Regions from separate parts of the Homo sapiens genome. Here all the other regions are linked to region 1. Evidence: fine-mapped expression QTL. A gene starts in region 1. Each other region holds a variant in brackets. All regions are shown on one strand. Distances are between the middles of the regions.

The links. PIP is the estimated chance that this variant, and not a neighbour inherited with it, causes the effect. A credible set is the group of variants that fine-mapping cannot tell apart.
Region 2: its variant is the best candidate, but not a certain one, in a credible set for the expression of EOGT in monocytes after LPS (Quach 2016, PIP 0.70).
Region 3: its variant is the best candidate, but not a certain one, in a credible set for the expression of EOGT in whole blood (INTERVAL, PIP 0.62).

What each region holds. Positions count from the first base shown.
Region 1 is chr3:69,012,588-69,015,349 of GRCh38, reverse strand. It overlaps EOGT (EGF domain specific O-linked N-acetylglucosamine transferase), which reads left to right and starts at 1,666. Exons shown (of 18, transcript NM_001278689.2): 1 at 1,666-1,776; 2 at 2,551-2,762. It overlaps EOGT-DT (EOGT divergent transcript), which reads right to left and starts at 2,230. Exons shown (of 1, transcript NR_185971.1): 1 at 1-2,230. RefSeq lists silencers at 1,439-1,738, 1,799-2,348.
Region 2 is chr3:68,990,276-68,993,037 of GRCh38, reverse strand. All of the region lies in intron 10 of EOGT (EGF domain specific O-linked N-acetylglucosamine transferase), which reads left to right. Among named protein-coding and RNA genes, the nearest start is that of EOGT-DT, 21 kb to the left of the region's middle. The variant C/T (reference allele first, on the strand shown) is at 1,002.
Region 3 is chr3:69,033,341-69,036,102 of GRCh38, reverse strand. TMF1 (TATA element modulatory factor 1) reads left to right here. Exons shown (of 17, transcript NM_007114.3): 9 at 988-1,080; 10 at 2,399-2,555. Among named protein-coding and RNA genes, the nearest start is that of MIR3136, 14 kb to the left of the region's middle. The variant C/G (reference allele first, on the strand shown) is at 1,192.

The sequences.
Region 1 (2,762 bases):
TATAAAATAATAGAGCAGTAATTCTGTTATAGGAAAGGGGTCCCAATCCAGACCCCAAGAGAGGGTTCTTGGATCTCGAGCAAGAAAGAATTCAGGGCAAAGTGTAAGCAAGTTTGTTAAGAAAGTAAAGGAAAAAAAAAAAGAAAGTAAAGGAAGAAAAGAATGGCTACTCCATAGACAAAGCAGCCCTGAGTGCTGCTGGTTGCCCATTTTTATGGTTATTTCTTGATGATATGCTAAACAGGTGGATTATTCATGCCTCCCCTTTTAAGACCATATAGGGTAACTTCCTGACATTGCCATGGCATTCGTAAACTGTCATGGCGCTGATAGGAGTATAGTAGTAAGGACTACCAGAGGTCTCTTTCATGGCCATCTTGGTTTTGGTGGGATTTAGCCGGCTTATTTACTGCAACCTGTTTTATCAACAAGGTCTTTATGACCTGTATCTTGTGCCGACTTCCTATCTCATTCTGCGACTTAGAATGCTTTAACGGCCTGGGAATGCAGCCCAGTAGGTTTCAGCCTCATTTTACTCAGCTCCTATTTAAGATGGAGTTGCTCCGGTTCACATGCCTCTTGACAGTTCCCTTAGAGGCAAAATCTTTTCAATAAAAAGAATAAATTAATACTGTAAAGTGCTTTAAAACAATGTTTGGCACATGTTAAACACCACATGTTCTTGCTGTTATTATTTGAAAAAAATTCCAGGTAAGATTCCTAATTTAGCAGGTCACTAATGGAACTTGTAACAATTCTTAAACAACATTACTTTTAAAAATTACGTAAAAAGCATGTAAGCCTTTGGAAACAAACTTGTTTCCTTATGATCATATTATTTAACTTCTGGTGACTATATTCATTTGAGCATGTTTATTTTGAAGTCATCACCTTCATATAATCAGTTCAACTTTAGTCACTATTTAATGATCAACTCTACTGTGCTGTAGATGGAATACTAGGCCTGGGGGAGCTTAGAGGAAAAGACAGTGGGGGATGGGAGTTCAAATAATTATAAGCAGTAATAAAGTAAATTAACAAAACCATAAAAATTAAACTCCACAGAGTAGCATTTGAACTTGATGAGTTTACGGATAGGTAAAACTATACTGCTTTTAAAATGTGTGTGGACTCCAAAGTATCCTCACCATCACAAAGTGTATTCGGTGAACGATGTTCAGTCCCCAAATTTGGAAGTTAGGGCGGCAACTTCTGCTTGAAATAAGACAAAAGTAAAAATCCACCTCAGTGCAACGCAGAAGACACGAAGAGTCAGGTTTTCTACCCACCCCGTCCTAACATCCTCTGAGCGCTTTAACGCTCTCGCTCAAGGAGGCGCGGGCTGCTGCGATGGAGATGGGCGTCCGGCGCCGGCACGTGCCGTCGGTCTTTCCGGCCCTGGTGAGGGAGCTGGCGGACTCGCGCGAACGTTCGCGGGAGAACGCCAGGAAGGGCAGATGGTTCCTCGACTCTGAGCCCCTCCCTGCTGCGCTCGCCGGGTCGAGGCCGCTCGCCGGGCTGAAGCCGCTCCGAGCGTCGGGCCCCGCGCCCTGGCCCTCCTGGGTGTAGTCCCGGTCCTGCCTCTGCGGGGCCCGAGCCCGCCCACGGCGCCGGCTGGCCAAGGTGTCCCAGCTGCTCCTTGGCGCCCCCTGGCCCAGCTCCCGCGCCCGAGGTTTCCGGTGAGCGGCAGTAGCCGGTTATGACGACTCCCTCCTCTGGAACAGCCGCCGTCTCCTCCGCCTCCTCCTCGGTAGTTCACGGCTGCCCCGGCTCCAGGTGGGACTCCCCCGCAATCTGCGGAGCCTTCCCCCGCTCTCCTTCCCGCCGCCGCAGCGCTCTGCGCTGTTCTTGCCCGGGTGGTAGCCGCTCCCGGCGCGGCTTCCCGGAGGGCTATAGCCTACGCACGCACTCCGCCCGCGCCTTCCCATTCCCTGCGGGCCGGGAGGCGGGCGTCGGAAGCCGATCCTGGCCCTCCCCGGCCCCGGGCGCCCGGCCCCTTCCCAGCGCCCGGAGCGCAGGCGGGCCCCGGGCCCTAGCCGCGTTGACCAGGTTTCCAGCCGGGGCGGAGCCGCTCCCCGGGGCCCCTCCCAGGCGCGCTGGGGACCCGGGGCGCCGCGGTGCACGGTGGCGGGCGGCCCCGGGAGATCACCGACCCCGAAGCAATCCCTGGCGGCGCCCGGGGTCCGGAACCCCAGCGCGGCGTCTCAGCCGCGGCGGGGTGCTCGCCACTGACCCCTCAGCCCTTGGCCGGGACTGACGTTCAAGCGGACAGCTGGGCTCTGCCGGGACTGACGTTCAAGGGGCAGCCGAGCACTTCCTGAGCCCTGCCTGGCACCCGCCGAGAGACTTTTTGGCACAAGTAGGGGCCAGCCGTTGAGGTGTCATTCGGGGTCTCACGTGTTGAACTTTCCATTTGCCCACTGCCGTCTTTAAACTTTTCCAAGCTCTCTCTCTCTGCGACATTGCCCCATTTCGCCCGCTGTGTCAACCCCAGGTTTTGCCTCCTATCCATCATCTTTCAGATGTTTCCCTTTTTTCCTTCCTCATTAGGCCTGTGGAAATCGAATCAAGGGTTTCTGGAGTGGAGTGATTCCAGCTGCTTTGAGCTGAAGGAAAAGTAGCCTGGCCAGTAAAGCGTCCGTGTGCTGGAGGAGTGCAGCCACCCATCCCGGCGGGCCTTGCAGGACGACCGACACCAGGAAGGCTTTGTGCCAGGCCCAGCAGCCACCCCCAGCCGCCTTATGCAAGTGGGTACATGCCCT
Region 2 (2,762 bases), 22 kb after region 1:
AGACCCAGGAGGAAGAAGTGGTTTTGTGGGCTGAGCCCAGGGTCCCCATGCTGTATGCAGCCTAGGGACTTGGTGCCTTGTGTCCTAGCCGCTCCAGCCATGGCTGAAAGGAGCCAATGTACAGCTCAGGCTGTGGCTTCAGAGGGTGGAAGCCCCAAGCCTTGGCAGCTTCTATGTGGTGTTGAGCCTGCGGTGCACAGAAGTCAAGAATTGAGGTTTGGGAACCTCCACCTAGATTTCAGAAGATGTATGGAAATGCCTAGATGCCCTGGCAGAAGTTTGCTGCAGGGGCGGGGCTCTCATGAAGAACCTCTGCTAAGGCAGTGTGGAAGGGAAATGTGGGGTTGGAGCCCCCAAACAGAGTCCTTAGTGGGGTGCTGCCTAGTGGAGCTGTGAGAAGAGGGCCATCATCCTCCAGACCCCAGAATGGTAGATCCACTGACAGCTTGAACTGTGCACCTGGAAGAGCCGCAGACACTCAATGCCAGCCCGTGAAAGCAGCCAGAAGGGAGGCTGTACCCTGCAAAACCACAGGGGCAGAGCTGCCCAAGACTGTGGGAACCCACTTCATGCTTCAGTGTAACCTGGATGTGAGACCTGGAGTCAAAGGAGATCATTCTGGAGCTTTAAAGTTTGACTGCCATGCAGGATTTCGGACTTGCATGGGCCCTGTAACCCCTTTGTTTTGGCCAATTTCTCCCATTTGGAACGGCTGTAATTACCCAATACGTGTATCCCCATCGTATCTAGGAAGGAACTAGCTTGCTTTTGTTTTTACAGACTCATAGGTGGAAGGGACTTGCCTTGTCTCAGATGAGACTTTGGACTGTGGACTTTTGGGTTAGTGCTGAAATGAGTTAAGACTTTTGGGGGACTGTTGGGAAGGCATGGTTTGTTTTGAAATGTGGGGACACGAGATTTAGAGAGCCCTGGGCAGAATGATATGGTTTGGCTGTGTCCCCACCAAATTTCAACTTGAATTGCATCTCCCAGAATTCCCA[C/T]ATCTTATGGGAGGGACCCAAGGGGAGGTAATTGAATCATGAGGGCCAGTCTTTCCTATGCTATTCTCGTGATAGTGAATAAGTCTCATGAGATCTGATGGGTTTATCAGGGTTTTCCACTTTTGCTTCTTCCTCATTTTCTCTTGCCGCTGCCATGTAAGAAGTGTCTTTCACCTCCCGCCATGGTTCTGAGGCCTCCCCAGCCATGTGGAACTGTAAGTCCAGTTAAACTTCTTTTTCTTCCCAGTCTCAGGGTATGTCTTTATCAGCAGTGTGAAAACTGGCTAATACAGTCTTGAACTCCTGGCCTCAAGTGATCCTCCCACCTCAGCCTCCCAAAGCACTGGGATTACAGCCATGAGCCTGGCCAATATGTTTATATTCTTATGGAAAATACATTCTCTGTCTCATATTGCCACCTTAGTATTATCTGTGGAATGTCTTTTTAAGTCAGTACCTTTAGGGCTATCCTTGCTTTAGATGTTATGTGGTATTCTGTTTAATGGATGTTTTGGAAGTTGGATGCATGCATCAGTGCATGTATTCATTTCCCACTCCACCCCCCATCACATTTAGTTTTGTTTCCAGTTCTGTGCTATTTACTGAAATGTGACCATAAACACATATGTCCTTTCAATATACCTATATCTTCACATGCTCATCCTAGCATTTCTGTAGGACAGATTCCTATAATTGGAATTTCTAAGTCATAGATTATGTGCATGTTTAAATTTGAGACACACTAAAGGAAATTTTATGTCATCTTGAAGACTATCCAAATATTCTTCAACATGAGTATAGGAAGAAGTGCCTCCTTCCCAAATGGTGGATAATTTGGACTTGGGAAACATGGAAAAGAAGCTTTTGGAGGTGGTTCTTATTCAATAATGTATGACTTCCCTGAGGAAGGATCAGTCAGGATTACTGTATTTTATTATTAAAATTTCCTTTCAAACATATTTTATTTTATCTGAAGTATTTTATCTCAGGAAACCATCTAGAATCACTTCTTTTAATTGCCCTTTATTTATTATTGAGCCAGAACAGGGACATTTCATTTTAGATGGTGTTGAGAAGGGCCTTTATTAGAATGGCATTGGAGGAACATGGAAAGAAGGCTTTTTTTTTTTTTTTTCACATCTAACAGATCTCAATAACTTTGAAATAACTGTAATATGTGCAACATAAAATTTTCAAAATCTGAGAAAAGAATGCTATAAAAAAGAGACATGAACATAATGTATAACTGTAGAGCTTGAATGTAGTGCTACAATGCATATTTCTGATTTCTATTGGCTGAATTTTTCAATCTAAGTGAAACCATTTAAAAATTAATTGATCTTCTTAGCTAATGGAGCTCATAATCAACTACTTTTCAAAAAATAAATCAGGCTGGGTGTGGTTTCTGTAATCTCAGCACTTTAGGAGGCCGTGGTAGGCGGAGCACTTGAGCTCAGGAGTTTGAGACCAGCCTGGCCAATATGGTGAAACCCTGTCTCTATCAAAAGATACAAAAATTAGCCGGGTGTGGTGGCGTGCGCCTGTAATCCCAGCTACTCGGGAGGCTGGGGCAGGAGAATTGCTTGAACTTGGGAGGTGGAGGTTGCAGTGAGCCCAGATCACGACATGGCACTCTAGCCTGGGCAACAGGGTGAGACTCAGTCTCAAAAAAAAAAAAAAAAAAAAAAGCATGTGGTAATTATACTGGAAAGAACTAATTCCTGCTGAAAGGCAGCTGTCAGATGGAAGTGGCAGCACAGG
Region 3 (2,762 bases), 21 kb before region 1:
GCTATTTCTTATTGATGGATATTTGGGTTATTTTCAGTATTTTGCTATTATAAGTCATGCCATGGTCCATATATCCTTTGTGTTTCTGCTGGGATAGATAAAATATCAGTAATTTAAATTTAAAATACGTTAGAATAATAATAATACAGAAAAATTGGGGGAATGGGAGATAGAGCATATATGAGTTACCATGCATAAATCCATCACTTTTTCCAAGTACTGTCAGTTTTGTGTGTTAGTGTTTCATTCTATTCCCATATATGTGTTTTTCATAATTGATGTCTTACGTGTTATTTTATAGTTTTTCCATTTAATAGTATATTAGAAATTTTTTTTACATGTTTTATACATTTATTGTAATTTTTAATGGTTATATTCATGTTGTATCGACATTTGCAACTATAGATTACTAGTGATGGAGATTTAGAATATTTCCAGTTTTGTTTTTGCTAGCCTATTTAATACTGTAGGGAATATCCCTGTGTATTTACGTATCTGCTTTCTTAGAGTGAATTCCCAAGACTAGGATGGCCCGGTGAAAGGATGTGAGAAGTTTGATGATTCTTTAAACATATTATAACGTTTTCCAAAAAGGCTATGGTAGTTTATAATGTATGCTCCTGCATATGAGTGGAGCCCCCAGCTTTTATAATCCGTATAGCACCTATCACTTTCTGTGTGATGTGGCAAATATTTATAGACGCACTGTCTTTTCTCCAATATTGTATGGTAATGGCTATGCCTTATACATATTTGTTTGCGTTTCTTTGCCTTAACAGAATGCTTTTCTAAGTAAACATTGAATATACATACAGTTTTAGAATTGCTTGATGAATGAGAGATGTGATAATCATATGTAAAAGTTCATTGGAGAGTATGAAATAGTATACATGAACAATGTTGACACAACACAAAATATGTAGTTAGTGGGAAGTTATAGATAATACTGTACCATTGTTTGTGAATGTATTGTTTCTCCTCCTACAGGTGGGGGACCTTAGGCTTGCATTGCAGCGTACAGAACAAGCGGCTGCCAGAAAGGAGGATTATTTACGCCATGAGATCGGTGAACTTCAGCAGGTACTGTCACAGGTTTCCAAAACACAAATCCAAGAAGTATGTGTTTTTCTAGAAATAAAAGAATTCCTCAGTGGGATAGTGTTCATGGAATTGAGAGGATTACTGTCACAC[C/G]TAGCATTTGCTGAATTTTTGTGGCTTGTGTGAATAAATCAGAGTGGGCACCTTAAAAATTATACAAGGAAATTCCTTATTTTGTTTTATAGAAAATAATGTTATGATAGATTTGTTATATGTATTCAGTATTGCTTTTCCATTTGTAATCGCTTATTAATGATTGTCAGTCTTTGATTACTGTGGGACAGGTAATAGTTCCCGGTTTCTATGCCTCTGTTAATTTTCAGTCATTTATAACATGCAGAGGAAAAGGGAGAGAAAATACAATTTAGGTTGATTTTTCAGTTTTTATAAATACTTAGAAATATTTGGATGAGGAGGTAACTACTAAGAGGTTTGGATGAACTCTTTTTTAACCTTCAGGTAATTGAAGACTATCTTAGAAACGCTTTTTAAAGAAGCACTTATTTATTTATTTATTTAATTTCTTTATTTTGAGACAGAGTCTTGCTCTGTTGCCCAGGCAGGAGTGCAGTGGCACAATCTTGGCTCACTGCACCCTCTGCCTCCTGGGTTCAAGCGATTCTCCTGCCTCAGCCTCCCAAGTAGCTGGGATTACAGGCGTGCACCACCATGCCCAGCTAATTTTTGTATTTTTAGTAGAGATGAGGTTTCACCATGTTGGCCAGGCTGGTCTTGAACTCCTGACTTCAGGTGATCCACCCACCTCAGCCTCCCAAAGTGCTGGGATTACACACATGAGCCACCGTGCCTGGCCAAAGAAGTACTTATTTAGATACTGTATTACACAATCTAACTCTCTTGGAAGGATTGAACAGTTAGAAAAATAATTAAGGGCTGGGCATGGTGGTTCATGCCTATAATCCCAATGCTTTGGGAGGCTGAGGCAGTCAGATTGCCTGCTCAGGAGTTCGAGGCCAGCCTGAGCAACATGATGAAACCTCGTCTCTACAAAAAAATACAAAAATTAGCCAGGTGTGGTGGCGTGTACCTGTAGTCCCAGCTGGGAGGATCGCTTGAGCCTAGGAGGTTGAGGCTACAGTGAGCCACGATTGTGCCACTGCACTCCAGCCTGGGTGACAGAGCGGGACCCCGTTTCTAAAATTAATAATAATAATTAAAAAGCAAATTATTTTCTCTTGGAAAAATAATTTTCCAGGAACCTCTCAAAGTTCAGGTTTGCTAGTGTTTTTAATGTTTTTATTGCTGTCATTGGTAATGACTTCAGAATTTCATGATTCAGAGACTCCAGGAAGCAGAGAATCGAAACCAGGAACTGAGTCAAAGTGTTTCATCAACAACAAGACCATTGCTTCGACAAATAGAAAATTTGCAAGCAACCCTGGGATCCCAGACATCGTCGTGGGAGAAATTAGAGAAGAATCTTTCTGATAGGCTTGGTAACTGCTTTAGTTTTTATGCTCGATGCAGAAGCTCTTCCATCTTGTTTATAGAATTAGAATAATGGTATGAAATTGAAATTCATTTGATCTGATAGTTACATTTTGTGTCTAATATGTAGATTTTTACATTTTCTCTTTTTCTACATGTATTTTTAATACCTTTATTATGTCTCTTTCAAACCATTTTTTCCCATTACACAATGG